Regions from separate parts of the Homo sapiens genome. Here region 1 is linked to region 2. The links come from fine-mapping of genetic effects on plasma protein levels. A gene starts in region 2. The other region holds a variant in brackets. All regions are shown on one strand. Distances are between the middles of the regions. Region 1 overlaps DPPA3 (developmental pluripotency associated 3). Region 2 holds the start of CLEC4C (C-type lectin domain family 4 member C).

The links. PIP is the chance, under the fine-mapping model, that this variant and not a neighbour inherited with it causes the effect. The UK Biobank Pharma Proteomics Project read protein levels with antibody pairs (Olink). The fine-mapping took linkage between variants from a reference panel, not from the people measured, so its PIPs are less certain.
Region 1: its variant is fine-mapped to the plasma level of the CLEC4C protein (UK Biobank, PIP above 0.99).

What each region holds. Positions count from the first base shown.
Region 1 is chr12:7,712,892-7,728,419 of GRCh38, reverse strand. DPPA3 (developmental pluripotency associated 3) reads right to left here. Exons shown (of 4, transcript NM_199286.4): 2 at 12,993-13,237; 3 at 12,181-12,222; 4 at 10,861-11,453. The coding sequence ends at 11,343. Among named protein-coding and RNA genes, the nearest start is that of DPPA3, 9.2 kb to the right of the region's middle. The variant A/G (reference allele first, on the strand shown) is at 11,107.
Region 2 is chr12:7,740,146-7,755,796 of GRCh38, reverse strand. It overlaps CLEC4C (C-type lectin domain family 4 member C), which reads left to right and starts at 8,422. Exons shown (of 6, transcript NM_001371390.1): 1 at 8,422-8,479; 2 at 9,374-9,466; 3 at 14,266-14,376. The coding sequence starts at 8,449. RefSeq lists enhancers at 6,107-6,186, 6,367-6,546, 6,567-6,646.

The DNA of each region.
Region 1 (15,528 bases), 27 kb after region 2:
AGCCGAGATCACGCCATTGCATTCCAGCCTGGGCAACAAAAGCAAAACTCTGTCTCAAAAAAGGAAAAAAAAAAAATAGCCAGGTATGGTGGCATACGTTTGTAGTCCCAGCTACTCAGGGGGCTGAGGTGGAAGGATCGCTTGAGTTTGAGGTTGCGGTGAGCTACAATCACGCCACTGCACTCCAGCCTGAGTGACAGAATAAGACCTTGTCTCAAGAAAGAAATTAAAGAAATAAGTAAAAGGATATTTGAACACACACAAAGACACCAGGGGTGTACGTACACAGAGGGCCGACCATGTGAAGACACAGCAAGAGTGTGGCCATCTGCAAGCCAAGGAGAGAGTCCTCAGAAGACACCAACCCTGCTGACACCTTGATATTGGACTTCCAGCCTCCACAATTGAGAGGAAATAAGTATTTGCTGTTTAAGTAACGCAGTCTGTGCCATTTTATTATAACAGCCCTAGCAAACCAATCATGCAGTACTGATGTCAGTATTTGATGTACTTTCTGTGTTTGGTCAAAAGGTTTTCCATTTCGTTCTGATTTATTACTTTTAGCTGAAAGCAGACTATGCAGCAAGATACACAAGAACACAAGATATCCAAAGAAGGCAGTGTTCTTGCTTAGGTCCAATAAATTACTTGGGCTTCTTGATATTCGTTCAGTCTTGGGCTGGCACCTCACCTCAAGGTGCACAGAGAGGGAGATTAGAGATGATTATTCTCCTGGTTAGCTGGCAAACAGAATTATATTCCTTGTCCTCATATCCCAATAAGTTTTTTTCTTTTTCTTTTTTTTTAGACGGAGTTTCGCTCTTGTCACCCAGGTTGAAGTGCAATGGCACGATCTCGGCTCGCTGAAACCTCTGCCTCCTGTGTTCAAGCGATTCTCCTGCCTCAGCCTCCCAAGTAGCTGGGACTACAGGCCTGCGCCACCACACCCGGCTAATTTTTTCTATTTTTTTTTTTTTTTTTTAGTAGAGACAGGGTTTCACCATCTTGGCCAGGCTGGTCTTGAACTCCTGATCTCATGATCCACCCGCCTCGGCCTCCCAAAGTGCTGAGATTACAGGCGTGAGCCACCGCGCCTGGCCCCCAATAAGTTTTTCTTTGGTTCAAAGTTTCTGTGTATGGATTGCCACCTCAAATGTTCCCCGATTTGTTCTTATTCTTTTTACTGAAGTTCCCACAGGTCACTTTATTTCTAGTATAGTAAAAATACATCATATTTACATCAGAGTAATGCATTGCTCTGGTATAGTGATCAGAATTACAATAAAGCTGGTTCCATCCATGACTACTTTTGTAGATTTTCCCAATATGACTTCCAACTTTCTGAGATTGTGCCCTGATCATCTTGATGCAACAGAATCATTTCATTTCTTCGGCCACTGATTTCTTCACTCTCCTTTAGGATGGGCTATTTTGAAAGAGCTGAACTTGGCCGGGTGCAGTGGCTCACACTTGTATTCCCAGCACTTTGGAAGCCCGAGGCAGGTGGACCACTTGAGGTCAGGAGTTTGAGACCAGCCTGGCCAACACAGTGAAACCTCCTCTCTACTAAAAATACAAAAAAATTTGCCAGGCATGGTGGCGGGTGCCTATAATCCCAGCTACTCAGGAGGCTGAAGCAGGAGAATCGCTTGAACCTGGGAGGCAGAGGTTACAGTGAGCCGAGATCACGCCATTGCACTCCAGCCCAGGCAACAGAGCGAAACTTCATCTCAAAAGAAAAAAACAAAAAGCCAGAAAGATCTGACCTCACCTTAACCACTGTAGGTAGAATTTATCAGTTTAACTCTTACAAATCAACTTAACCAATTCCTCTCATTTGCCCATCCCTATGAGTAGTTTTAAGCCTTGCTTGCAGATTATAATCAGAATCCTAGGGAGCTTTTTAAAAAATGCCTCACCCCAGATATCCTCATGTTTAAGTTTCTGGGATTGAGAACCCCTGATCTACATTTGCTGTTGTGCAATATCATTTCATACACAAGCTCAGCACTATGAGGTGGACACCTCCTGAGCAGATGGGAAAATTACATTTGATAGCCACATTAGTTTCCTGTTCCTGCTGTAACAAATCAACGCAAAATGGCTTAGAACAACACAAATTATTTTTTTCTTTGAGACGGACTCACTCTCACCCGGGTTGGAGTGTAGTGGCATGATCTCAGCTCTGCAACCTCAGCCTCCCAAGTAGCTAGGACTGGCATGCACCAACGTGCCCAGCTATTTTGTATTTTTGGCAGAGATGGGGTTTCGCCATGTTGCCCAAGCTGGTCTCGAACTCCTGGGTACAAGCCATCTACCTGCCTCGGCCCCGCAAAGTGCTGGGATTACAGTGTGGGCCACTGTGCCTGGCCACAAGTTAATTTTTTTTATAGTTCTGGAGGTCAGAAGTCCAAACTGAGACCCAGTTCTCTGAAGTCAGGGAGGCAGCAGGGCTAGTTCCTTCTGCAGGCTGTGAGAGAAAAATCTGCTTCCTTGACTTTTCCAGCTTCTAGTGGCCACCTATATTCCTTGGCTTGTGGCCACTTCATCTGCCTTCAGAGAGCGCCTCTCCAAAATCTCTGCTTCTGTGATCACACTGTCTTCTCTAACTCTGACTTCTCCTGTGTCCCTCTCATAAGGATCATTGTGATTACACCGGGCCCCCTTGGACAATCCTGACAATCTCCCAGACTCAAGATCTTTAAAATAATCACATTTACAAAGTCCTTTTTGCCATATAAGGTAACATTTGCAGGCTCTGGAGATTAGAGTGTGGGCATATCTGAGGGCCATTCAGCATATTACAGTAACTTTTTGTTTGTTGGTTTGAGACAGAGTCTGGCTCTGTCACACAGGCTGGAATACAGTGGCACCATCTTAGCTCACTGCAACCTCTGCCTCCCGGGTTCAAGAAATTCTTGTGCCTTAGCCTCCCGAGTAGCTGGGACTACAGGCACATGTCACCATGCCCAACTAATTTTTATATTTTTAGTAGAGACGGTGTTTCACCACGTTAGCCAGGTTGGTCTCAAACTCCTGGCCTCAAGTGATCCGACCTCCTCAGCCTTCCAAAGTGCTAGGATTACAGGCATGAGTCTGTAATCCTACGCCCAGCCCTTACAGTAACTTTTGACAGAAAGTATACAAGAGTAGAAAGATTAATCAGAATTTCATTGAATTCTATTTCATTTATTTCAAGATACCTAAGTTATAATGTAATATTGAAGCATGAAACCTAAAGTTATATACATAAAGCTTGTTTGATTGAGGAAACTCAACTAAGATATAAATGTGAAATTGTTTTGTTGATTTCAATACCTGCTACCGTTGGGGTCTGTGAAACCCTTTTTTTCCAGCGTAGCAGGTCTTCATTAATGAAATATTAGTCCAGTTCCACGATATTTGGGTCATTTTCAGTTACTGAAACACTTTTGACCAGGCATGGTGGCTCATGTCTGTAATCCCAGGACTTTGGGAGGCCAAGGCAGGAGGATCGCTTGAGCCTAGGAGTTTGATACCAGCCTGGGCAGCATAGCAAGACCCCCATCTCTACAAAAAAAATTAAAAATTAGCTCTGTGTGGTGGTGTGTGCCTTTTGTTCCACCTAGTCAGGAGGCTGACGTGGGAGGATCAGTTGAGCCTGGGAGGTTGAGGGTGTAGTGAGATATGACCATGTCACTGCACTCCAGCCTGTGCTATAGAGCAAGACCTTGCCTCAAAAAAATAAAAAATGTTTAAAAAACCAGTTTATTGGGGTTGGATATGATGAATAAAAAGAAAAAAATTAAAAAAACCTTTCAGTTATTAAGTTTAGAATTTAGAAATATAATACTCTATAATGAAAAAGTAATTTGTAATAAAATATATACTTGACGTGTAAATGTTCACTTTAAATGTTTGAATTATACTTGATTCAAAGCTCTCCCATTCCAGTGATAGTCAGGGGTGGTTTTGGATTCTCAACACTGACCAGCCATCAGTTTCCTCTCTGTGGCAATGGCCTAAAACTTGGCTGTTTCATGGGGTTGCATTGATTGGATTTTAGAGAGCTCTATGGGTGTTGGTCTCTGCCCAGTCCTTTGTCATAAAAATGGAACTGAGGCTTAAACTTTTACTCCATCCCCACAACCTTTTGCTTTTGGGGAATTCTCATCCAGCAGTCCCTTGTTGGGGGAAGGTCATGGGTGGTTACTTACAAGATGGTTTGTGTTCCACCCACTTTCTGAACTGTACTTGCGTCACCAAATGGTGGGAATGCCAGCTGTTTGCAGACACTCTGCCTAGCATCACCCTGCGCTCCTTTCTCACCAACCGGCAGCATCAGGCCTGGCTATCAGGCTCTCTGCTGGTTCAATGGCTCAGCAATTAGATTAGATGTAATCACCAGCTCCAGTTTTATTTGTGGGCAAAGATACTTTGGTCACATCTGATCCTGCAAGGAGGAGGGGGTACATATAAAATGCCCTGCCCTTTCCCAAAAAAAGATAAAGCAGATAGGAATCAGTAACATAAGGTCGGCATTCTCCCAAATGTACTCTCTTATCCTATCGCTAGCCTACTTTTGATAGTGAAAAACGTTCTTGTGTCTGATCTTACAAAACGGTGTCCCTTAGCAAACGCTGCAGGAAGGAAACTGAGCTGGAGTTACTCTGAAACTAAAATGTGACTATGGGTCCTGGTAACCAGGAAATAGGAAAGATCTCATCTACCACCTCTCATTTAGCAAGTTACACACACCATTTCTTCCTGATATTTATTACTAGATTTTCACCTTTTTTTTTTTTTTTTTTTTTTTGAGATGGAGTTTTACTCTTGTTGCCCAGGCTGGAGTGTAATGGCGTGATCTCGGCTCACTGCAACCTCGTCTCCTGGGTTCAAGTGATTCTCCTGCGTCCCACTCCCGAGTAGCTGGGATTACAGGCACGCACCACCACGCCCAGCTAATTTTTGTATTATTAGTACAGACGGGGTTTCACCATGTTGGCCAGGGTGGTCTCGAACTCCTGACCTCAGGTGATCCACCTGCCTTGCCTCCGCCTCTCAAAGTGTTGGGATAACAGGCGTGAGCCACTGTGCCTGGCCAAGACTCTCACTGTTTTGAAAAATAATGGATCTTAAGATAAACTTAATTTTCAATCTCTCTTTTTTTTTTTTTCCTGAGATGGAGTCTTGCTCTGTCGCCCAGGCTGGAGTGCAGTGGTGTGATCTCAGCTCACTGCAATCTCCGCCTCCCAGGTTCGAGCGATTCTCCTGCCTCAGCCTCCTGAGTAGCTGGGATTACAGGCGTCCGCCACCATGCCCGGCTAATTTTTGTATTTTTAGTAGAGATGAGGTTTCACAACATTGGCCAGGCTGGTCTTGAACTCCTGACCTCAGGTAATCCACCCGCCTCAGCCTCCCAAAGTGCTGGAATTACAGGCATGAGCCACTGTGCCTGGCCTCAATCTTATAAGGAATTCAAAAGAATAGAGAAAAGCCCACAAGCATATGAGAAATCTCATTATGGCACAGCACAAATTTGATAAGTGATATATCAAACCAAAGTATCCTTATAACAATTTTTTATTTTTTGAGACAAGGTCTCACTCTATTGCCCAAGCAGGGCCGTGATCTCAGCCTCTCAAGTACCTGGGACCACAGGTGCACACCACCACACCCAGCTAATTTTTTTTATTATTTGTAAAGATGAGGTCTAGCTATGTTGCCCAGGCTGGCATTAAACTCCTGGGCTCAAGTGATCCTCTTGCCTCAGCCTCCCAAAGTGCTGGGAGAGCAGACGTAAGACACTGTGCCCAGCCTATTTTTAATTTATTTTTAGAGAAGGGGCCTCACTATGTTGCCCAGGCTGCAGTGCAGCAGCTGTTCACAGTGTGATCATAGGGCACTACAGCCTCGAACTCCTGGCCTCAAATGATCCTCCCTCCTCAGCTCAGGAGTAGCTGGGTCTACAGGTTTATGTCACCTTGCCCGGCCTAATAATATTTTAAATTAATAAAGTCTCAACAACTTGAAAAAGAAGAATAAAGTTGGAAGACTCACACTTCCTGATTTCAAAATGTACCACAGAGCAAGAGTAACCAAGACAGTGTGATATTGGCATAAAAACAAACATATAGATCAGGCCAGGTGAGGTGGATCACGCCTGTAATCCCAGCACTTTGGGATGCCAAGGTGAGCGGATGGCCTGAGATCAGGAGATCAAGACCAGCCTGGCCAACATGGTGAAACCCAGTCTCTACTAAAAATACAAAAATTAGCCCGGCGTGATGGCACACACCTGTAGTCCCAGCTACTCGGGAGGTTGAGGCAGGATATCGCTTGAACCCAGGAGACGGAGGTTGCAATGAGCCAAGATCGCACCACTGCACTCCAGCCTGGGCAACAGAGCAAGACTTCATCTCAATAAATAAATAAATAAACAAATGTATAGATCAATGTAATAAGCAAATTCAAAAATAAACATTCACATTAATAGTCAATTGATTGTTAACAACTCAATAGGGAAAGAATGGTCTTTTTTTATTTTTATTTTTTATTTATTTATTTATTTTTTTAAGAATGGTCTTTTCAACACATGTTGCTTGGACAGCTAGATAACCATATGCAAAAGAATTAAGTAGGACCCCTATCTAACATCATATAGAAAAATATATGTATATTTTTTAAGTCACAGAAACTTTTATTGGGAAGGAATGAGCTGTAGTAAAGTGACAACCAGTGCATGTGACCAAATGGGTGAGGTGGGGGTACAGGTGGGCACCAAGGGCTGGTCCAAGACCAGAGCTGGTGACCGCTGGGGCCTGATTGTGGGGCCTTGGGCCATAGGCCCTTTGGGCTGGACTGCGTGGGCCAGCAGAAATACAAAAATAAACTCTGGGCCGGGCGTGGTGCCTGTGCTGGGATTACACCTGTAATCCCAGCACTTTGGGAGGCTGAGGTGGGCGCATTGCCTGAGGTCAGGAGTTCCAGATCCGCCTGGCCAATGTGGTGAAACCCCGTCTCTACTAAAAATACAAAAATTAGCTAGGCGAGGTGGCAGGCACCTGTAATCCCAGCTACTCGGGAGGCTGAGGCAGGAGAATTGCTTGAACCCAGGAGGCGGAGGTTGCAGCGAGCCGAGATTGCACCATTGCACTACAGCCTGGGCTACAAGAGCGAAACTCTGCCTCAAAATAAATAAATAAATAAATAAATAAGTTGCCTTTTGAACCCCTGGGGTCCTCTAGCCCATTTCCTCCCTTCCTATCCCTTCCTACCCCTTTCCCGCTTCCTATCCCTTCCACATCTTCCCCCCGGCCCCCAACACTACACCTGACTAATTTATTTTTTGTTTGTAGAGACTAGGATCTCACTATGTTGCCAGGCTAGTCTCGAACTCTTGGCCTCAAGCAAATCTCTGGGCTCAGCCACCAAAAGTGCTGAGATTATAGGCATGAGTCACCACATCTGGCCATAAATTTCTTGAATTTTATCCTTCTACTGTGGTTATATAAGTCAATATTCTTGTTCTAAGAAAACACAAACTATTTTGGGATGAAGTGTTATCTGAAATTTACTCTCAAATATCTGTTTAAAAAGAGAAAATATAGAATGTTAAATGAAATGTGGCTAATGCTAACAATTGTTGTATCTAGGTAAAATGTACACACAGGTTTATGAGCTTAAGCTTGCAACTTTATGTAGTTTGAAATTTTTTTAAAAAAAGTTTAAAGTAAAACAAAAAATGTTGAGTGAACAGCAAATAGAGAAATTAACAGCGTTAGCCTGGGCAACACGGTGAAACTCTGTCTCCTCAAACAATACAAAAAATTAGCCGGGCATTGTGGCTCATGCCTGTAGTTCTAGCTACTCAGAAGGCTGAGGTGGGAGGATTGCTTCAGCCCGGGAGGTGGAGTTTGCAGTGAGCCAAGCCTCACTACACTCCCAGCCTGGGCAACTGAGAGAGACCCTGGCTCAAATAAGTAAATATAGAAAAAAAACAACTTTCATATATTACAACCAGTTGAAAAATGTAATGGCAATATTTTAACACACCATAATATAATCTGAAGAGGAAGATATCTGTAGAAAGTACGACTTGGGCCAGGCGCAGTGGCTTACGCCTGTAATCCCAGCACTTTGGGAAGCCGACACGGGGAGAGGTCAGGAGAATTGCTTGAACCCAAGAGGCGGAGGTTGCAGTGAGCCGAGATTGCACCATTGCATTACAGCCTGGGCTACAAGAGCAAAACTCCATCTCAAAAAAAAAAAAAGAAGAAAGTACCGACTTGGCTTAGCTGACTTCCATCTCGGATAAGCCACTTCTTATGTAACTTTGAGCAAGTTCACTACTTTTGTGCTTTTTTTTTTCTGTAAAATGAAGACACCGAAAGTGACCTATCTCAGAAGTTTTGAGGTTTAAATAAGCTAATGCACGTAAAATCCTTAGAATAATGCCTAGCACTCAATAAATGTAAACTGGGAGCATAAAGATTCAGGGCAACTTGAACTGATGCTCTCAGCAGGAAATACATGAAAGGAAGATATTATTATAGAAAGGTTTAAAAATATACCTAAATACTAGCCAGGCGCGGTGTCTCATGCCTATAATCCCAGTACTTTGGGAGGCCAAGGCAGGCAGATTGCCTGAGGTCAGGAGTTCGAGACCAGTCTGGCTAACATGGTGAAACCCTGTCTCTACTAAAAATACAAAAATTAGCTGGGCGTGGTGGCACACGCCTGTAGTCCCAGCTACTTGGGAGTCTGAGGCAGGAGGATCGCTTGAACCTGGGAGGTGGAGGTTGCAGTGAGCAGAGATGGCACCACTGCACTTCAGCATTGGTGACAGAGCGAGACTGCATCTCAAAAGAATACGAAAGGACATGTGACATGTAGAATTAATGTTTTCATTAATTTACAAATTTAACATGATTGCAATAAAAATAAGTTGCCTTTTTTAACTAGTCAGTGATTTTCAAGCTCATACAGAAAAATAATAAAAGTTAGCTTTGCTACTAGGAACGATTTGTAAGTTATAACAAATGCTCTGCCGGGCACAGTGGCTCATGCCTGTAATCCCAGCACTTTGGGAGGCTGAAGTGGGTAGATCATCTGAGGTCAGGAGTTCGATACCACCAACATGGTTAGACCCTATCTGTACTAAAAAATACAAAATTATCTGGGTGTGGTGGCACATGCCTGTAATCCCAGCTACTCAGGAAGCTGAGGCAGGAGAATTGCTTGAATATGGGAGGCAGAGGTTGCAGTGAGCTGATATTGCGCCACTGCCCTCCGGCCTGGGCAACAAGAGTGAAACTCCATCTCAAAAAAAAAAAAAAAAAAAAAAAAAAAGAAATATAACCAATGCTCAATCTGCCCCACATTTGTCCTTGCTGGTAGACCATGTTAAATTTAGTTCTTCAGTGGGGTAACTTCTGATGACCAAACTTGGCAGTGTGGTCCTGCACTCCAGCCTGGGCAACAAAGTGAGACCCCATCTCAAAAAACAAAACAAAAACCACAAAGAAATCACTGGATAGCATCTTCTTGGGTTATTACATATCATGCAGATATCCTTTCCAATTCTCCCTGTGATATTATAAAACATATTTGTTCTTAGTCACCATTTCCTGTCATATAGCTCCTAAAATCTTCAAAATCTCTGGAGTGATAACTTTTGTATGCTAATGGTGACTGCTTTGCTGGGGGCTCCAAGATACCCTCAGGATGTGGGCAGGTTGCCAGGAGAAACCACCAAGTGATTGGAGGGTTGAAAGTTTCACTCCCATTCCGGGACCTCCAGGGGAAGGGACAGGGGCTGAAGGTTGAGTTGATAAACCAATGGCCAGTGATGTAATCAATCATGCCTACCTAATGAAGCTTCCCTAAAAACACAAAAGGAGTTCTGAGGGCTCCTGGACAGTTTCACACTCCTTAAGGGTGGTTCACCCTGCTTGTCTTTTCTCCTATACCTCGCCCTATGCATCTCTTCCATCTGGTTATTCATCTGTATCCTTTGTAATATCCTTCACAATAAGTAAGGTGTTTCCCTGAGTTCTATGAGCCACTAGAGCAAATTAATCAAACTCAAGCAAGGGGTCGAGGGAACCCTGATTTGTAGCTGGTCAGTCAAAAGCACAGGTAAGACAACCTGAAGCTTGTGATTAGCATTAGAAGTGCAGGCAGTCTTGTGGGACTGAGCCTTCAACCTGTAAGATCTGGAGCTATTTCCAGGTAGACAGTGCTGGAATTGAATTAGACACCCAGCTGATATCTATGGCAGAATTGCTTGCTTGGAGGCCAGGTGCCGTGGCTTACACCTGTAATCCCAGCACTTTGGGAAGCCAAGGCAGGCAGATCATCTGAAGTCAGGAGTTCCAGACCAGCCTGGCCAGTATGGTGAAACCCTGTCTCTACTAAAAATACACAAATTAGCCAGGCGTGGTGGCAGGTGCTTGTAATCCCAGCTACTCAGGAGGCTGAGGCAAGAGAATCGCTTGAACTCAGGAGGCGGAGGTTGCAGTGAGCTGAGATAGTGCCATCACACTCCAGCCTGGGCTACAAGAGCGAAACTGTCTCAGAAAACCAAACAAACAAAAAAGAATTGCTTGCCTGGTGTGAGGACCCCTGCATATTTCCTATCAACAACGTAGTAAGCTCCACTTCTGTTCTACCTCCTTCCAATTTTCACATCTCTAATGGGAAGTTGATATTTGCAACTATCTGTGCCTGTGTTTTCCAATCTCACCCAAATGTACAATGAAGTTTCTTCCCAGTGGGAAGATATAAAATATTAGAATGCCAGATATTTACATTCTAGAAATGTAATAAAACTATTGTTCATCTAATTGTTAGTAAGAAAAAGAATAAAATCAAGAACAATTTTTAAAAGGTACTCAAATGTCAACTTTATTGTTTCTATATAAACACTTTTGTACTGAAAACTGTAAAAATAACAAAGTTTGCTGTGATTGCAATCCAAATTTTTGAAAGCCAGAAAATCTAATTATGCTATAGCCCAACTACCTAATGCTTTCTTTATCCATAAGTAACTTTGCTTCAATTTCTTGATGTTGGGTTTCATCTCACTGACTTTGGGCTTCTAAGACACATGGGAATACTTATATC[A/G]TCTTGGCTTCTTTGGGTCAAATCAAACAGTAGAGCTAAAGTTATTCAAATACATTCAGATTACACAGATCCCTTATGAATTACTAGTATCATAGTAGGAAGAAAAAGATACAAGAAAAATACATCCTAGAACTCATTATCAAAATTATTGGTGTATAGTCTATACTAGCATAGAGTAGCTTTCTCAACCTGCTATATAAAATTACTACCAAGAAAAAAAGGTGCAAGAATAAGATTTATGGCTGAAGTGGCTTGGTGTCTTGATTCCCTATTCTAGCATTCTCAGAAGGATCCCATCCATTAGACACGCAGAAACTGCAGGGACATTTGAATGGTCTTGATTCCTTCTGAAAAAAAATGATGAAATGGATTAATTGGAATATTGTACCCCAGAGAAATGTAATAAGCCCTCAACTATAATGTTGTTTATTTTGGTAAGTGTTGGAACAGGGAACACACACAAAAAAGGACACACGGGCCAAAAGCAAAACATTTTAGGAGAAAAAAAGATCAAAATATGGGTACCACAGAATGGCAGCTTGTGGGTCATTTTGTAATGGTAACAAGTGCAGACTGTCAATAAAACATTCTAGTCTCCGTTCTCTGAATGCCTTAAATGTAACTCATTCTGCTACTAGACACTCTGCTGAAGTGTTTGTCCTCTTACTATACAGTGCTACCGTGAAGATATTTGTGACAGCACGTGAAAGTATCAACCTAACACCAAGAGTGACCCCTAGTGTAAACTATGAACTCTGGATGATAATCCTGTCAGGGTAAGTTCATCAGCTGCAAAGTGTGCAATTCTGGTGTGTGACGTTGACAGTAGAGGCGGCATGTGTGGGGTGTGGGGGAAAGGCTATGAACATAAAACTTCTCTGAAAAATAAAGAATAAAGAATATATTTTTAAAAACTACAAACATGAACTGACTTATCCAGAGTCCCTGGGGATTCAGAAAGTCCAAGCAAATTCCCTAATTCCCTATTCCGGCAAAAGGAAACAAACCAGATACCCATCCACATATATAGCCAAAAAAAAAAAAGGAAAATAAAAAGAAAAAAATTATACTTACCTTAACTCCCTTAGGCTCCTTGTTTGTTGGTCTTCTTTCATGCTTCATGGGAAAAAAATATGTTTATTGAAAACTATCAAGAAAAAGATTACTAATATTACACATCTATATAAGGGAGAGAAGCTAGGGAATTTGTTGAGACAGGGTCTTTCTCTGTTGCCCAGGCTGGATTGCAGTGGAGCAATCATGGCTCACTGCAGCCTTAACCCCCCAGGCTCAAGTGATCCAGCTGCCTCAGCCCTCAGCCACCCACCCCACAGCAGCTGGGACTTACAGGCACGCACCACTACACCCAGCTAATTAATTTTTTGTAGAGATGGCTGATTTTATTAATTTTTTATATTGCCTAGGCTGGTCTGGAACTCCTTGAGCTCAGGTGATCCTCCCACCTCAGCCTTCCAAAGTGCAGGGATTACAGACGTGAGCTGGGAGTCTTTTTTTGAGACGCTTGTTTTGTTCTTGTTGCCCAGGCTGGAGGGCAATGGCACAATCTCGGCACACTGCAACCTCCGCCTCCAGGGTTCAAGCAATTCTCTAGCCTCAGCCTCCCAAGTAGCTGAGATTGCAGGTGCCCACCACCAGGCCCAGCTAACTTTTTGTATTTTTAGTAGAGACAGGGTTTCACCATGTTGGCCAGGCTGGTTTCGAACTCCTGTCCTCAGGTGATCCACCTGCCTCAGCCTCCCGAAGTGCTCAGATTACAGGCCTCAGCCACCGCACCGGGCCTAGAGCTAGGGAGTCTTAATTAGGTCTTAATTTATGAGTGTCACTCTCCGGAATTGGACAGCCCCGGCCACATCACATCAACATACCGTACGAACTCCGCCGAGTAACATGTATCTCAATCTTGCCATCTTTTCTCTCTGCACAGACAGCAATGTTCTTACTCCTCTCCTGCTGTAAAGCCACTCATCTTCGATTTCCCTGAGGACTGCTGCTCCTACAGACTCTCGACGGAGTAAAGCTTCCGATAGAGGGGAAACAGATTCGCTACTAGCGTTGATAGTCAAGTTACTAAGGTTCTTTATCAACGTCTCGGAGGAGATTTGAGAGGCCCCTGAAAGAGAAGGTTAAAAGCCATTACATTAAGGGGATCTTCAACATTCACACATCAACTAGGTCTGCCCTTAAGCAGGGGAACAGGGCGCTGTGTGGGAAATTCCTCAGGGTGGAAGGTCACAGTAAACAACGCACAACCTCTAGTCTTTTCTCAAAAATCGCAAAGTTAGCCCAGCGCGGTGGCTCACGCCTGTAATCCCAGCACTTTGGGAGGCCGAGGCGGGCAGATCATAAGGTCAGGAGATCGAGACCATCCTGGCTAATACGGTGAAACCCCCTCTCTACTAAAAAATACAAAAAATTAGCCGGGCGTTGTGGCGGGCGCCTGTAGTCCCAGGTACTTGGGAGGCTGAGGCAGGAGAATGGTGTGAACCCAGGAGGTGGAGCTTGCAGTGAGCCGAGATCGCGCCACTGCACTCTAGTCTGGGGGACAGAGCAAGACTCCGTCTCAAAAAAATAAATAAATAAAAATAAAAATAGAAATAAAACTACAAAATTAGCCAGGCGTGGTGGTGGTGCATGCCTGTAATCCCAGCTACTCGGGAAGCTGAGGCAGGAGAATCGCTTGAATCCGGGAAGCGGAGGTTTGCAGTGACCTCAGGTTGCGCCACTGCACTCCAGCCTGGGCAACAAGAGCAAAACTCCGTCTCAAAAAAAAAGGAAAGTCAAGGCAGGAAGAAGTCACTTGTACAGGGGCACATGATAACACAGTTGACCCTTGAACAACACGGGTTTAAACTTTGGGTCCCACTTACGCGAGAATTTTTTCCAACCAATCACAAAATTCGAAATCCCCACACACACTGTTAACCTTTTTCACAAGGTTTCGCAGGGCCCACTGTGGCACTTGATCACTTACAGATTTTGGGGATGTCCTGGAACAATTCCCAGAGTATAACCGAGGGATGACTGTAATCCCTTGTTTTCTAGACTGTTATTATTATTATTATTAAGACGGAGTCTCGCTCTGCCTCCCAGGCTGGAGTGCAGTGGCGCCATCTCGGCTCACTGCAAGCTCCGCCTCCCGGGTTCACGCCATTCTCCTGCCTCAGCCTCCCGAGCAGCTGGGACTACAGGCGCCCACCACCATGCCCGGCTAATTTTTTTCTATTTTTTAGTAGAGAAGGGGTTTCACCGTGTTAGCCAGGATGGTAGACTGTTATTTTTTGAGACAGGGTCTTGCTCTGTCACCCAGGCTGGAGTGCAGTGGCACTATCATGGCTCATTGCAGCCTCTACCTCCCAGGCTCAAGGGATCCTCCCACCTCAGCGTCCAGAGTAGCTGGCGCTACAAGCGTGTCCCACACGCTGCCCTGAGCTAGCTTTGTTCACTTACACTTAAGAGATCCACTGAGTATCTCACAAGCATTACCTACCGTACATTCTGTGGAATCTTGTGAAAGAGACAAGAAAAACCCATATACTATTTTCTCCCAGAATCCTCATCCTTAAGCAAAACTGGGCAGTCGAAGTAAGTGGCTGTTACCCTCTCCAGTTAGCCCTAATTTAGTTGCCCAGCTCCTTCATGGTATTAGATCTCTTCACTCAAACTCTATTTTGGGAAATCAACCACTCATTCTCGTCTCTCCCATCCGAACTGTGAGGCGTATCCCATACATACGCATATCTCATACAATAAGAAGGTTATCGTTAACTGCCCGTGTATGTGTGTTTTGTTTTGTTTTTTGCCCCCTATATGTGAAAGTATTAAACAATATCAAAGTTCGAGATCGATTCTCAAAGTCTAGGGACCTGTGCACATAGAAACGAGGATCCTTTGTGGAACTGTGAGGTACTAAGGCAGACGCAAGGAAAGGGAGAGACTGGGGGTACGTTCATTTTTCTTTCCCACTCGGATATATAGACCAGCATTCTTTCTTCTGGACGCAGGGGACACAGCTAAGACCAGGCGCAGAGGGCGTCAGCGCGCCAGCGGCCCAGTTCCCAGACCTCCCAGCATCGGGCAGTCGAAGGTGTTGGCTCCAGGGTTTCTGCCGCCACCACCCTAGACACCCAGCCCCGCTGTCAGGGTCATAAATAAGACTTCAAACCACGTGGAGGGCCTCTGTGGCCAAGCCCGCGCTTGGGTGCTGCTGTAAGAAAGGAGTTCTCCACCGGAAGACCCGGCCTATCAGGGAGCAGAATTACCCAAGCAGTTTCTAGATAAGCCGCCCTCCGGTGGAGGTCCTGCTACTAATTTACATTACGGAGCACGTTTACGGCCTCTCCCTTCCATTTTCCCAGTGAAGCTGTTAGTCTGTTTATTAACATTTAGCTGGAAAGCCTGTCT
Region 2 (15,651 bases):
TTGATTCAAACAGGCATTGAGTTTGTTCAAAACTAATTTCAAAATTTTAGGCCAGGCTCAGTGGCTAACGCCTGTAATGGAAGTTACAGGCCATTTGGAAGGCCGAGGCGGGCGGATACCTAGAGTCCAGGAGTTTGAGACCAATCTAGGCAACATAGCAAAATTCTGTCTCTACTAAAAATACAAAAATTGGCCGGGCGCGGTGGCTCACACCTGTAATCCCAGCACTTTGGGAGGCCGACGCGGGTGGATCATGAGGCCAGGAGTTCGAGAGGAGCCTGGCCAAGATGGTGAAATCCCGTCTCTACTAAAAATACAAAAATTAGCTGGGTGTGGTGGCGCACGCCTGTAGTCCCAGCTACTTGGGAGGCTGAGGCAGGAGAATCGTTTGAACCCAGGAGGCGGAGGTTGTGGTGAGCTGAGATCGTGCCATTGCACTCCAGCCTGGGCGACGAGAGTGAAACTCCGTCTAAAAAATAAATAAATAAATAAAAATAAAAATACAAAAATTAGCTGGGCAGTGGCTCATGCCTATAATCCCAGCTACTTGGGAGGCTGAGGCACGAGAATTGCTTGAACCTGGAAGGTGGAGGCTGCAATCAGTTAAAATGCACCACTGCATTCTAGCCTGGGTGACAGAGCCAGACAAGACTTCATCTCAAAAATAAAAAAATAAAAAAAATAGCCGGGCATGGTGGCTCACGCCTGTAATCCCAGCATTTTGGGAGGCCAAGGCCAGCAGATCACCTGAGGTCAGGAGTTTGAGACCAGCCTGGCCAACGTGGTAAAACCTCGTCTCTACTAAAAATACTAAAATTGGCCAGGAGTGGTGGCGCGCACCTATAGTCCCAGCTTCTCAGAAGGCTGATGGAGGAGAATCGCTTGAACCTGGGAGGCAGAGGTTTCAGTGAGCTGAGATCAGGTCACCGCACTCTAACCTGGGCAACAGAGGAAGACTCTGTCCTAAATAAATAAATAAATAAATAAATAAATATATAACAAACTGGATTTCATTCTTTATGAATTAATAGTCTCTTCTTGGGCCAGGCACAGTGCCACATGTCTGTAATCTCAGCACTTTGGGAGGACAAGGTGGGCGGATCGCTTGAACCTAGGAGTTCGAAACCACCTTGGGCAACCTGGTGAAACCCCATCTCTACCAAAAATGCAAAACTTAACTGGGCATGGTGGTGTGTGCCTGTAGTGCCAGCTACTTGGGAGGTTGAGGTGGGAGGATGGCTTGAGCTCAGGTGGTGGAGGTTACAGTGAGCCAAGATTGGGCCACTGCACTGCAGACTGGGCAATAGAATGAGACCCTTACTCCAAAAAAAAAAAAAAAAAAAAGGTCCATTCTCAGCTCTTCATTATTCATAGAGGAGTCCTTGTCTAAAGTTTTATTATTTAGTTACCAGCCTCCCAGTTGTACAGACACTGCACAGACACTCAGTCCTTCAGTCACTGCTGAAGAGCCAGCAGATGCCATGTCCAGCTTTCTCTCTCTCTAGGGTCTTGGCTCCTGAAATTCCTTGTTCTGTGGAAGCCTCTCTGATGCTTCCTAATAGTTTTTTTGTATTGATCCAGCTTTCCTGGTTGGTCTCAGCAAACAATTGGTCTGCCACAAGCTATTTAAGCCACAATCCAAACTGGAAGTTTCTGCTTCTCATTTTTGAGGTTGGCTTTCATTTCCTCATTGATTTAAAAATTCTAAAAAATACATGCTGTCCATGAGCCCTGGTGCTTCTTTTTAGGGAAAGCCAAAATTTAGTAGTAGCATTTTAAAAATCAATCAGATTTTTAAAATGAAATAGATGCTAAAAGTGATAAAGAACTACCAGGCACGGTGGCTCATGCCTGCAATCTTCCGGGTTCACTCCATTCTCCTGCCTCAGCCTCCTGAGTAGCTGGGACCACAGGCGCCTGCCACCACGCCCGGCTGATTTTTTGTATTTTTAGTAGAGACGGGGTTTCACTGTGTTAGCCACGATGGTCTCCATCTCCTGACCTCATGATCCGCCCGCCTCGGCCTCCCAGAGTGCTGGGATTACAGGCTGAGCCACCGCGCCCGGCCCCCTTGGCTTTCTTGACACTTGGTGTTATGGTCTGAATGTTTGTGTCTCCCCAAAATTCATATGTTGAAATCCTAACCTCCAAGGTGATAGTATTGGAGGTGGGGACTTTGGAAGGTGATTAGGTCATGAGGGTTCAACCAAATGAGTGAAATTAGTGCCCTTATAATAAAAGACCCCAGAAAGCTGGCTCATCCCTTCCACCATGTGAGGACACAGCAAGAAGGAGCCATATATAAACCAGAAAGTGGGCCTTTGCCAGACACCAAATCTGCCAGTGCCTTGATCTTGAACTTTCCAGCCTCCAAAACTGTGAGAAATAAATTGCAGCTGCTATTGGCCACCCAGTTTACAGTATTTTCTTATAATAGCCTGAATGGGCCGGGCCTGGTGGCTCATGCCTGTAATCCCAGCACTGTGGGAGGCCAAAGTGGGTGGATCACCTGAGGTCAGGAGTTCGAGACCAAGCCTGGCCAACATGGTGAAACCTCATCTCTACTAGAGATACAAAAATTAGCTGGGCGTGGAGGCATGCGCCTGTAGTCCCAGATACTGGGGAGGCTGAGGCGGAAGAATCACTTGAAGCCGGTAGGTGGAGGTTGCAGTGAGCCAAGATCGTGCCACTGCACTGCAGCCTGGGTGACAGAACGAGACTCCATCTCAGAAAAAAAATAATAATAGCCTGAATGGACTAAGACACTCACTTTTCCTATTTCTCTGGATATTCTTCTTTGTCTCTTTTGCCACTTCATCCTCTGCAAACAATACATTCAAAGTTGGACTTTTTTTTTATTATTATTTTTTTGAGACGGAGTCTTCCTCTGTCGACTCTGTCTCAAAAAATAAATAAATAAAAAAATATAATCTGATCCTTTCACCACATTGCTTTAGTGCCTTTAATGGCTCTTTCTGCTATTGGATAAGTTAAACTCTCACTTCACCCTGCGTGGTCTGACCACTAACTTCCTCTTACACAAGCCCAATATCTCCACCTGGCTAGCTATAAAATAGAATCTTAAACCCTAAGGACTGCTTTTCTCATTGGTTTCTTTCTTTCTTTTGAGACAGAGTCTCCCTCTGTCACCCAGGAGTGCAGTGGCGCAATTGAGAGGTGACAGCGTGCTGGCAGTCCTCACAGCCCTCGCTCGCTCTCAGCGCCTCCTCTGCCTAGGCTCCCACTTTGGCGGCACTTCAGGAGCCCTTCAGCCCACCGCTGCACTGTGGGAGCCCCTTTCTGGGTTGGCCAAGGCCGGAGCCGGCTCCCTCAGCTTGCAGGGAGGTGTGGAGGGAGAGGCGGGGCTGCGCGCGGCGCTTGCGGGCCAGCTGGAGTTCCGGGTGGGCGTGGGCTTGGCGGGCCCCGCACTCGGAGCAGCCGGCCGGCCCTGCCGGCCCCGGGCAATGAGGGGCTTAGCACCCGGGCCAGCGGCTGCAGAGGGTGTACTGGGTCCCCCAGCAGTGCCAGCCCACCGGCGCTGCACTTGATTTCTCACCGGGCCTTAGCTGCCTTCTCGCGGGGCAGGGCTCGGGACCTGCAGCCCGCCAAGCCTGAGCCTCCCACCTCTCCCCCGCCATGGGCTCCTGTGCGGCCGAGCCTCCCCGATGAGCGCCACCCCCTGCTCCAAGGCGCCCAGTCCCATCGACCACCCAAGGGCTGAGGAGTGCGGGCGCAAGGGCGCGGACTGGCAGGCAGCTCCACCTGCAGCCCCAGTGCAGTGATCCACTGGGTGAAGCCAGCTGGGCTCCTGAGTCTGGTGGGGCCGTGGAGAACCTTTATGTCTAGCTCAGGGATTGTAAATACACCAATAGGCACTCTGTATCTAGCTCAAGGTTTGTAAACACACCAATCAACACCCTGTGTCTAGCTCAGTTTGTGAATGCACCAATCGACACTCTGTATCTAGCTGCTCTGGTGGGGCCTTGGAGAACCTTTATGTGGATACTCTGTATCTAACTGATCTGACGGGGACGTGGAGAACCTTTATGTCTAGCTCAAGGTTTGTAAACGCACCAATCAGCGCACTGTCAAAACAGACCACTCGGCTCTACCAATCAGCAGGACGTGGGTGGGGCCAGATAAGAGAATAAAAGCAGGCTGCCCGAGCTAGCAGTTGCAACCGGTTGCGAGTTGCTTTCTGTGCTGTGCAAGCTTTGTTCTTTCGCTGTTTGGGTCCACGGTTCTTTTATGAGCTGTGATACCGCGGAAGTCTGTAGCTTCACTCCTGAAGCTAGCAAGACCACAAGCTCGCCGAGAGAAACGAGTAACTCTAGACGTGCCATCTTAAAAGCTGTAACACCGCGAGGGTACGTGGTTTCATTCTTGAAGTCAGTGAGACCAAGAACCTATCAATTCTGGACACACGATCTCGGCTCATTGCAATCTCTGCCTTTGGGTTCAAGTGATTCTCCTGCTTCAGCCTCCTGAGTAGCTAGGATTACAGGCTAGTGCCACCACACTAAGCTAATTTTTGTATTTTTAGCAGAGATGGGGTTTCATCATGTTGGGCAGCCTGGTCTTAAGCTCCTGACTTCAGGTGATCCACCTGCCACACACTTCCAAAGTGCTGGGATTACAGGTGTGAGCCACTGTGCCTGGCCTCTTACTGGTTTCTTTGCTTGATAATATGTTGCAAATATATAACATTATTCACATAGAAATCTTTTTCTGAAGGCGTAAATACTGACATATTGGGGAGGTTTCTTTTTCTTCTTGGTTTTTATTTTATCTTAGAGGTAGGGTCTTTGTCACTCAGGCTGGAGCACCGTGGCTTGATTATAGCTCACTGCAGCCCTGATCTCTAAGGCTCAGGTGATTCTCCCACCTCAGCCCCTCAAGTAGTTGGGACTACAGGTACATGCTACCATACCTGGCTAATTTTTGTTTGTTTGTTTGTTTGTTTTTTTTTTTTTGGTAGAGAGAAGGTCTCACTATGTTGCCCAGGCCTCAAGTAATCCTCCTGCCTTTGCCCCACAAAGTGCTGGGATTACAGGTGTGAGGCATTGTGGCCAGCCAATAAGTTTTAAGTGGAAGAGAGTGGTTGTCTTTTAATGTTATAGCTGGAGTGATTTGGTGATTTCCTGGCACACAGGTTTTTAAAAGCATGTACACAATAGGGTTTGTTTTCTTGCTACTACTGGAATCCTCCTGCCACAATGTACGTAAATCCAGGCTAATCCGCTAGAGGATGACCAAAGAGAGACGTGAATCAGCCAGCCCCACCCAGCCCACCAGCTTATTGCAGAGTGAGCTCAGCTGAGATGGAACCGATCCGATCCAATCCAAACCAGAATCACCCAGTGGTGTTCAGCCCAAATTGCTGACTCTCGGGAACTATGAACTAATTGAATAGCTGTGTATTTTAAGTTTTAAGTTAATTGATTATACAGCAAAACCTAACTGATGCCCTGTCCTGATTCCAAACACTGGGTACTCATGTTAAAAGAGCATCACCGGCCAGGCATGCTGGTTTACATCTGTAATCCTAGCACTTTGGGAGACCAAGGCAAGAGGATCACCTGAGCCCAGGTGTTCGAGATCAGCCTGGGAAATAACATAGCGAGACCCTGTCTCTACAAAAAAAATTTAAAAGATCCCCAGGTGTAATGACGTGTATCTATAGTCCCAGTTACTCGGGAGGCTGAGGTGGGAGGATCACTTGATCCCAGGAGGTCAAGGCTACAGTGAGTGAAGGTCGAGACACTGCACTTCAGTCTGGGCAACAGACTGATATCCTGTCTCAAAAACAAAAAATGGCCAGGCATTGTGGCTCACACCTGTAATCCCAGCACTTTGGGTGGCTGAGGTGGGCGGATCACCTGAGGTTGGGAGTTCAAGACCAGTCTGACCAACATGGAGAAACCCTGTCTCTACTAAAAATACAAAATTAGACAGTCGTGGTGGCGCATGCCTGTAGTCCCAGCTACTCGGGATGCTGAGGCAGGAGAATTGCTTAAACCCGGGAGGTGGAGGTTGCAGTGAGCCAAGATTTAGCCACTGCACTCACTCCAGCCTAGGTGACCAGAGAAAGACTCCATCTCAAAAAAAAAAAATATTTCTGTTTCTCACTCAGCCAGTTTCCATCTCAGCTGGGCCAGCTGCACTCCACCTGGTCCTCAAGCTAATAGATTTCACTTCCCTGAAGGCCCACAAAATCTTTTTTTTCTCTTTTTTTTTTCGTTGACACAGAATCTCACTCTGTCACCCAGGCTGGAGTGAAGTGGTACGATTACGGCTCACTGCAATCCCTGCCTCCCAAATTCCAGTGATTCTCGTGCCTCAGCCTCCTGAGTAGCCGAAATTACAGACGTGTGCCACCATGCTTGGCTAATTTTTTGGATTTTTAGTAGAGATGGGGTTTCACTATGTTGGCCAGGCTAGTCTTGAACTCCTGGCCTGAAGCAATCCGCCCACCTCAGCCTCCCAAAGTGCTGAGATTATAGGCACGAGCCACTACACCTGGCCACAAAATTCTTTAAAGAAGCCAATCCCATCCTCCCTCAAGAGCCAAGGGGCCACCTCACCCTCTTGTTACAGCAGATCCTGCCTCCCACAGTCACCCTGCTCCCAAGTGCAACCTCTGTCTGACCCTGCATGGTGTGCGGTGCCCTCCTGCCTCAGGCCGTGAGTACATGCAGCTGAACTGCTGTCAGTCTTATCTGTCCAGTGTCGGGTGTTGTGTGTCCAGCCACCCATAACCCTGGGTTGGGACTCCCTCCCTCACCAACCGGGGGAAGAAGTAGTGAGCAAACCATCTACCAATTCTTATCTAGATTTATCCTCTTCAGCTGTAGCTTTTGCAATACTCTGGTCATACTCAAAGCATTCTGCTGGGATGTCACCTGAGCTGGGCCTACATGCAATTCTGCTTTTCTTCTGAGAAAATAATTTGTCATTCTTTCTGCTTTTATAATTTGTTCTATTTTAAATTATTTTTCTCATTTTTGCCTTTGCTCCTTTCTTCTCAGCATTGTATACTCAAAGGAATACCCTCATACTCTACATTTTAATCCAAGACAGAGGAAAGCAACAGGGAGAACCCCTGAGGCAGGGGCAGAGGGAGGTTCAGGGAACTGTAAATGGGAGGTAGACAAGAGACCAAACAGGACTTTAAGTTGTTTCAGCAAGTATACAGCTTAGAAAGGATCTCATTGGTCTGGGTCCTAAAATATCTCAAAGGATGGCTGCTAACTCAAAACTTTTTTTTTTTTGAGACTGAGTCTTGCTCTGTCACCCAGGGTGGAGTGCAGTGGCACGATCTCGGCTCACTGTAAGCTCCGCCTCCCGGGTTCAAGCAATTTTCCTGCCTCAGCCTCCTGAGTAGCTGGGACTACAGGCATGCACCACCACACCTGGCTAATTTTTGTATTTTTAGTAGAAACGGGGTTTCACCATGTTGGCCAGGATGGTCTCGATCTCTTGACCTCGTGATCCGCCCACCTCAGCTTCCCAAAGTGCTGGGATTATAGGCATGAGCCACCGTGCCCAGCTCAAAACTTTTTTCTCACTACTCTACAATTAAATCTCAGTTGAACTCTGGGAAGATTCTGGAATACCTAGGTTCTTTCTTTCTCAGTGTCTATTTCACCAGTAGTTGTAACCATCCTTCAACCAAACATCTCCATTTGAGTAGCATAGGCTATAATGGATTTTCTCTATTTAAGATTACTCAGCAGTGGCCGGGCACGTGGTGGCTCACAACGGTAACCCCAGGACTTTGGGAGGCTGTATTAGTCCGTTTTCATACTGCTGATAAAGACATACCTGAGACTGGGCAATTTACAAATGAAAGAGGCTTTTTTTTTTTTTTTTTTGGAGATGGAGTTTTGCTCTTGTTGCCCAGGCTGGAGTGCAACGGCAGGAGGTCAGGAGTTCGAGACAAGCCTGGCCAGTATGATGAAACCCTGTCACTACTAAAAATACAAAAATTAGCTGGGCATGGTGGCACATGCCTGTAGTCCCAGCTGCTCGGGAGGCTGAGGCAGGAGAATCGCTTGAACCCGCGAGGCAGAGGTAGTAGTGAGCTGAGATTGCACCACTATACTCCAGCCTGGGTGGCAGAGTGAGACCCTGTCTAGAAAAAAAAAAAAAAAAAAAAAAAAAAGACAATCAGACCTGCAACCATGAACTGTTTTTCATGTATTTCTCGATTTCCTTGTTTGTGTTTCCTTATTTCTGAACATGATGTATGTTTTAAATTGAAAGCTTTAGCTCACTGCAGAGTCTCCTAAGTCACATCTCTTCCTTTGCAAGAGTAGGCGAAGAAGGATCTAAGGGCTTGGCTTGTTTGAAAGAACCACACCCCGAAAGTAACATCTTTGGAGAAAGTGATACAAGAGCTTCTGCACCCACCTGATAGAGGAAGTCCAAAGGGTGTGCGCACACACAATGGTGCCTGAAGAAGAGCCTCAAGACCGAGGTAAGCACTCATCTTCTCAGTTCTAGGGAAGGTAGTAGGAGCAGGATGGAGTGGGAAACAGGCATTGAGGTGATAGGGATGACTTTGGAAGAAGAAGTAGACAGCTTTTCATAAATAATAGTAATTTCAGTATGGAAACAGGTATGGACCCAAGATACTTGGATCAGGGAAAGATGAAAGAAAAAAAGAAAGGCCGGGCGGGCGCGGTGGCTCACGCCTGTAATCCAGCACTTTGGGAGGCCGAGGTGGGCAGAGCACCTGAGGTCAGGAGTTCGAGACCAGCCTGACCAACATGGAGAAACCCTGTCTCTACTAAAAATAGAAAATTAGCCAGGCGTGGTGGCACATGCCTGTAATCCCAGCTACTTGGGAGGCTGAGGCAGGAGAATCACTTGAACCTGGGAGGCGGAGGTTGCAGTGAGCCGAGATCGTGCCATTGCACTCCAGCCTGGGCAACAGGAGTGAAACTCCATCTCAAAAAAAAGAAAAAAAGAAAAACAACTCGGGCCTAGAAGGCCTTAAAGGAATATGAATTTGGCCAGGCATGCAGGCAAATGCCTAAAGTCCCAGCTACTCAGAGGTTGAGGCAGGAGGACCACTTAAGCCTGGAAGTTTGAGGCCAAGGCTGTGCAATTCAAGGGAAAAGAGAGTAAGGAATTGGAAAGTACAGTTTACTCTGAGAGTTTTGCCTGGATTTGTCTTGGGTTCCAGGGTACTATCTGGTCATTTGTTCTGAGATAATTTCTATAATCTCTTTTTGCTTTCACATTTTTTCTGTTTTAATTAGTTTTGATCATAGCCTGACTTTATTATTCTAAGATTTTTGGGACTCTGGTTTCCTGGCTCTTTGGCAGTGGGGATTATGACTGTGCATTTGTCATGCTGATCTGACAGAGAAAGGACTCTGGTGGTTCCAGTTGAAGGTCTGGTCCATGGCAGTCGTATCCATCTTGCTCCTCAGTGTCTGTTTCACTGTGAGTTCTGTGGGTAAGTTCTTGGCTGGAGTGCAGTCATCTCTTGGTCCTTTTCCCAATCACATTTTATCAATTTCCTGAAGAAACACGTTCCTCTTTCTTTTTTTTTCTTTTTTTTTTTTTTTTTTTTGAGACGGAATCTCGCTCTGTCGCCCAGGATGGAGTGCAGTGGCGTGATCTCGGCTCACTGCAAGCTCACCTCCCGGGTTCATGCCATTCGCCTGCCTCAGCCTCCCGAGTAGCTGGGACTACAGGTGCCCGCCACCATGCCTGGCTAATTTTTTGTATTTTTAGTAGAGACGGGTTTTCACTGTGTTAGCCAGGGTGGTTTCGATCTCCTGACCTCGTGATCCGCCCACCTTGGCCTCCCAAAGTGCTGGGATTACAGGTGTGAGCCACCGCGCCCGGCCACGTTCCCCTTTCTTGACATAAAATGGCAACCCTAACTGAGAAGGCTATGTTTCTAATAAAATGAGTTATTACTATTATTAATTATTCTGGATAATTGTGTGTACTTCCAGGTTTCTTTGCCTGGTTTTAGTTGCATTTTTCAAATGTGATCATAACTGTCTTGGTCAGCTTGGGCTGCCATAACAAAATACCATAGACTGGGCCAGGCGTGGTAGCTCATGCCTGTAATCCCAGCACTTCGGGAGGCCAAGGCAGGCAGATCACCTGAGGTCAGGAGTTCAAGACCAGCTTGGACCATATAGTGAAACCCTGTCTCTACTAAAAATACAAAAATTAGCTGGGTGCAGTGACTCGCGCCTGTAATCCCAGCTACTTGGGAGGCTGAGGCAGGAGACTCAGTTGAACCCAGGAGGCAGAGGTTGCAGTGAGCCGAGATCACGCCACTGCACTCCAGCCTGGGTGACAGAGTGAGACTCTGTCTCAAAAAAAAAAAAAAAAAAAAAAAAAAGCATAGACTGAGTGAGTTAAAAAACAGATATTTATTTTCTGATGGTTCTGGAGGCTGGAAGTCTGACATGAGGATGTCAGGATGGTTGGGTATGGTGAGGTCCCTCTTCCTGGCTTACAGCTGATGCCCTCTTGCTGTGTCCTCACATGATGGAGGGAGTGCTAGCTCGTCACGGTTTCTTCTTATAAGAGCATTCATCTCACCATGAGAGCCCCCCCTCATAACCTCATCTAAACCTGATTTCCTCCCAAAGCCCCTATCTTCAAATACCACAAATTGGAGCTTGGGACTTCCATATATGAACTTGGGGAGGACGCAATTCATTCTATAACAATAACTCCACTTTGATGGGTGTGCTGATGGTGGGTACCATCTAGTTGATCTGCTCCTTTGTTTTAAAAAAGTCTCTATTGGGAACATAACTATTATTCTTTCTATGATGCTATAATTGTATTACTGTGGGGTTTTAATCTTCATGTGAGATTCTTCCCAACATGACAGGAAAAATTGTTCATATGGCCAGGCAGTGGCTCACACCTGTGAGCACTTTGGGAGGCTCAGGTGGGAGGATCGCTTGAGGACAGGAGTTCAAGACCAGCCTGGGCAACAGAATGAGACCCTGTCTCCATAAAAAATAAAAAATATAACTTGGCATGGTGGCATGTGCCTGTGGTCCCAGCTACTCAGGAGGTTGAGGCAGGAGGATCGCTTGAGCCCAGGAAGTTGAGGCTGCAGTGAGCCATAATCGTACCACTGCAATCCAGCCTGGGCGACAGAGAGACCCTGTCTCAAAAAATAAAAATAAAAATAAATGTTTATACAGTGATACAATGGAAAAATAAACAAAGTAAACTATTATTTAATTGCTACTCCCTTTGCCAAGTTTTATATTTTTGTGACACCTGAGAAATTTCCCAACTCTCTTGTTTACTATTTGGGTGTCAAAATGTGCTCTATTATCTAATATTATGATTAGAAACAGAAATGAAACATCTGTGAGGAAGTTACTGAATACGATGACTTCCTATGTCAAGTAAAAATGTGTTGATGATACAGTCTTCAGTTTCTTTCTAGTTGTAAATACATCTCACAGTTTTCAATGTAACCCCAAGAGGCAGAATTATTACTAAAGTTAAACTTTGCTTTGCTTTTTATAACAAAGGGCAAGAGACAAAAGGGCTTAAAGATGTGATATGGTTGGGATAGTTGTCCCTTCCAAGTCTCATGTTGAAAATTTGAAATTTGGAAGGGACAACTATCACTTGAAATTTGAAATCCCCACTGTTGGAGGTGGGGCATGGCAGGAGGTTTTGAGTGATGCAGATGGATCCCTCATGAATGGCTTGGCACCCTCCTCGAAGGAATAAGTGAGTTCTTGCTCTGAGTTGGGGTGAGATCAGCCCCTCCCCCTCACTCTCTCTTGCACCCTCTCTTGCCATGTGATATGCCAGCTCCCGCTTTGCCTTCCACTATGACTGAAAGCTTCCTGAGGCCTCACCAGAAGGTGAGCAGATGCTGGCACCATACTTACTGTACAGTCTGCAGAACTGTGAGCCAGTAAAATGTCTTTTCTTTATAAATACCAAGTCTCAGGTATTCCTTTATAGCAATGCAAAAACGGACTAATACAAGATGGTTATTTAATTATCTGAGAGGAAAGAAGACATGCAAGAACTTAAAGACATAAATTCAGAGAAAATAGAAGAGTTTGACTAGGTTTAGTCTCAAAATCAGAATGATGAAATACATGAATAAAGAATTAAGGCCGGGCGTGGTGGCTCACTTTGGGAGGCCGAGGCGGACGGATCACGAGGTCAGGAGATCGAGACCATGGTGAAACCCTGTCTCTACTAAAAAAAAAATACAAAAAAAATTAGCCGGGCGCGGTGGCGGGCGCCTGTAGTGCCAGCTACTCAGGAGGCTGAGGCAGGAGAATGGCATGAACCCAGGAGGCGGAGCTTGCAGTGAGCCAAGATCGCGCCACTGCACTCCAGCCTGGGCGACAGAGCAAGACTCCATCTCAAAAAAAGAAAAAAAAAAAAAAAGAATTAAGTGAGGATAAGTGAAAAGTCAGATCTTGCTCTATGTGCCTGCCAGTGAACAAAAGAGACCGTTTTTAGCAAAAGATGTCTAAATGTCTCCAAAGGGTTAGGTTTTACCTTATATTTAATTTGACCCAAATGGTTTACTTACAGTTACAGCCATCAGAAAACTATGGAAAAACCAAAAGACCTGTGATATTTCAGGATTAATAGAATTAGATGCTGTTACCTAGTAAGTCAACAAATGCTTACTGAACACCTACTATGAGCAGGCCACTTTTCTAGGTGCTGGGTATATAGCGTGAATACAATGAAATTCCTTCACTAGACTGTATGTTATTGTAGGGGGAAATCAAGATATATACGTATGTAAACTTATAAACAAACAAGATAAATGAATATAAGATAGGGTTAAGAACATATTTTTTACTGGACCTGCACAGAAAGAAGCATGAGAAAAAAACAGTACGGCTTGAAATGGGATGGGCAAGAGAGAGATGTTGCAGACTTTGTAAGAGCATAACGTTTATTTATTTATTTATTTATTTATTTATTTATTTATTTATTTATTTTTGAGATGGAGTCTCGTTCTGTTGCCAGGCTGGAGTGCAGTGGTGCGATCTCGGCTCACTGCAACCTTCGCCTCCCAGGTCGAAGTGATTCTCCTGCCTCAGCCTCCTGAGTAGCTGGGATTAATAGACACGTGTCACCACGCCTGGCTAATTTTTGTATTTTTAGTAGAGATGGGGTTTCACCATGTCGGTCAGGCTGGTCTCAAACTCCTGACCTCATGATCCACCCACCTCGGCCTCCCAAAGTGCTGGGGATTACAAGCATGAGCCACTGTGCCCAGGCTTTTTTTTTTTTTTTTCGAGACAAAGTCTGGCTCTATTGCCCAGGCTAGAGTGCAATGGCACGGTCTCTGCTCACTGCAACCTCCACCTCCCAGGTTCAAGTGATTCTCCTGCCTCAGCCTCCTGTAGCTGGGATTACAGGCATGTGCCACCATGCCCACCTAATTTTTGTATTTTTAGTAGAAACAGGGTTTCACCATGTTGGCTGGGCTGGGCTTGAACTCCTGACCTCAGGTGATCCACCCGCCTTGGCCTCCCAAAGTACTGGGATTACAGGTGTGAGCCACCATGCCCAGCCGTAAAGTCATAAGATTCTTTATTTTTATTTATTTATTTATTTATTTTTTTGAGATGGAGTTGCACTCTTGTCACCCAGGCTGGAGTGCAATGGCACGATCTCGGCTCACTGCAACCTCTGTCTTCCAAGTTCAAGTGATTTTCCTGCCTCAGCCTCTTGAGTAACTGGAATTACAGGCGCCTGCCACCACCCTTGGCTAATTGTTTTTTTGAGACACAGTCTTGCTCTGTCGTCCAGGCTGGAGTGCAATGGCGCGGTCTCGGCTCACTGCAACCTCTGCTTCCTGGGTTCTAGCAATTCTCTTGCCTCAGCCTCCCAAGTAGCTCGGATTATAGGTGCCCGCCACCACACCCAGCTAATTTTTGTATTTTTAGTAGAGACGGGGTTTCACCATGTTGGTCAAACTCCTGACCTCAAGTGATCCAACCAGCCTCGGCCTCCCAAAGCGCTGGGATTACAGGTGTGAGCCACTGTGCCTGGCCACCTGGATAATTTTTATATTTTTGGTGGAGACGGGGTTTCACCATGTTAGCCAGGCTGGTCTCTAACTCCCGACCTCAAATGGTCCTCCCACCTCGGCCTCCTAAAGTGCTGAGATTACAGGCGTGAGTCACTGTGCCTGTCCACAGCATAAGATTGTATAGTACAACATAGATCCACTTAAAAGAATGAGAACTAACTCCGATTTCTCTTTCCCAGTGCCTCACAATTTTATGTATAGCAAAACTGTCAAGAGGCTGTCCAAGTTACGAGAGTATCAACAGTATCATCCAAGCCTGACCTGCGTCATGGAAGGAAAGGACATAGAAGGTACAACTCTGCAATGGGCAACAAGACTTCCCTTGCTATTAATCAAATTCCTAGTCTGATGGTTTATATCTTCAGCACTAAAATTATCAACTGCAGCCTGGTTTTTCCTACTGCATTCTTTAACTATCTACTTGGTATCTTAAATAGACACCTCAGGCTGGGCCCAATGGCTCACACCTGTAATCCCAACACTTTGGGAGGCCGAGGTGGGTGGATTACCTGAGGGTCTGGAGTTTGAGACCAGCCTGACCAACATGCGGAGAAACCGCATCTCTACTAAAAATGCAAAAAAAGTCCGGGCGCGGTGGCTCAAGCCTGTAATCCCAGCGCTTTGGGAGGCCGAGGCGGGCGGATCACGAGGTCAGGAGATCGAGACCACGGTGAAACCCTGTCCCTACTAAAAATACAAAAAATTAGCTGGGTGCAGTGGCAGGCGCCTGTAGTCCCAGCTACTCGGGAGGCTGAGGCAGGAGAATGGTGTAAACCCAGAAGGTGGAGCTTGCAGTGAGCCGAGATCGCGCCACTGCACTCCAGCCTGGGTGACAGAGCGAGACTCCGTCTCAAAAAAAAAAATAGACACCTCAAAATTAAAGTATCAAACAGGGGTCCTCAGAACTGTCTCACTTCCTCCTGCTCCCATCAATATTAAAGCCTAAAACTCAAGAATCATTCTTAGCAGTTTTTTTCTCTTTTTTCTTTCTTTTCTTTTTTTTCTTTTTTGAGACGGAGTCTCACTCTGTCGCCCAGGCTGGAGTGCAGTGGCGCGATCTCGGCTCACTGCAACCTCTGCCTCCCAGGTTCAAGCAGTTCTCCTGCCTCGGCCTCCCAAGTAACTGGGACTACAGGCACACGCTGCCAGGCCCGGCTAATTTTTTTGTATTTTAGTAGAGACGGGGTTTCACCTTGTTGTCCAGGCTGGTCGTGAACTCCTGAGCTCAGGCAATCCTCCCGCATCGGCCTCCCAAAGTGCTGGGATTACAGGCGTGAGCCACCGTGCCTGGCCAGCAGTTTTTCTTTGCTTATCATCTTCACCCCTGCATCCAATTAATCACTAAGTTCAACAGTAAATATATCCCTCTCCCTATACAGTTCTGGATTAACTGAAAAATAAATATACACAGGATTCAGATAAGAATAAAATTATGCCTGGCATAGTGGCTCACATCTGTAATCCCAGTGCTTTGGGAGGCTGAGGAGGGGTAATCACCTAAGCACGGGAGCTTGAAACCAGCCTGGGAAACAAGATGGGACCTCAACTCTACAAAATACTTAAAA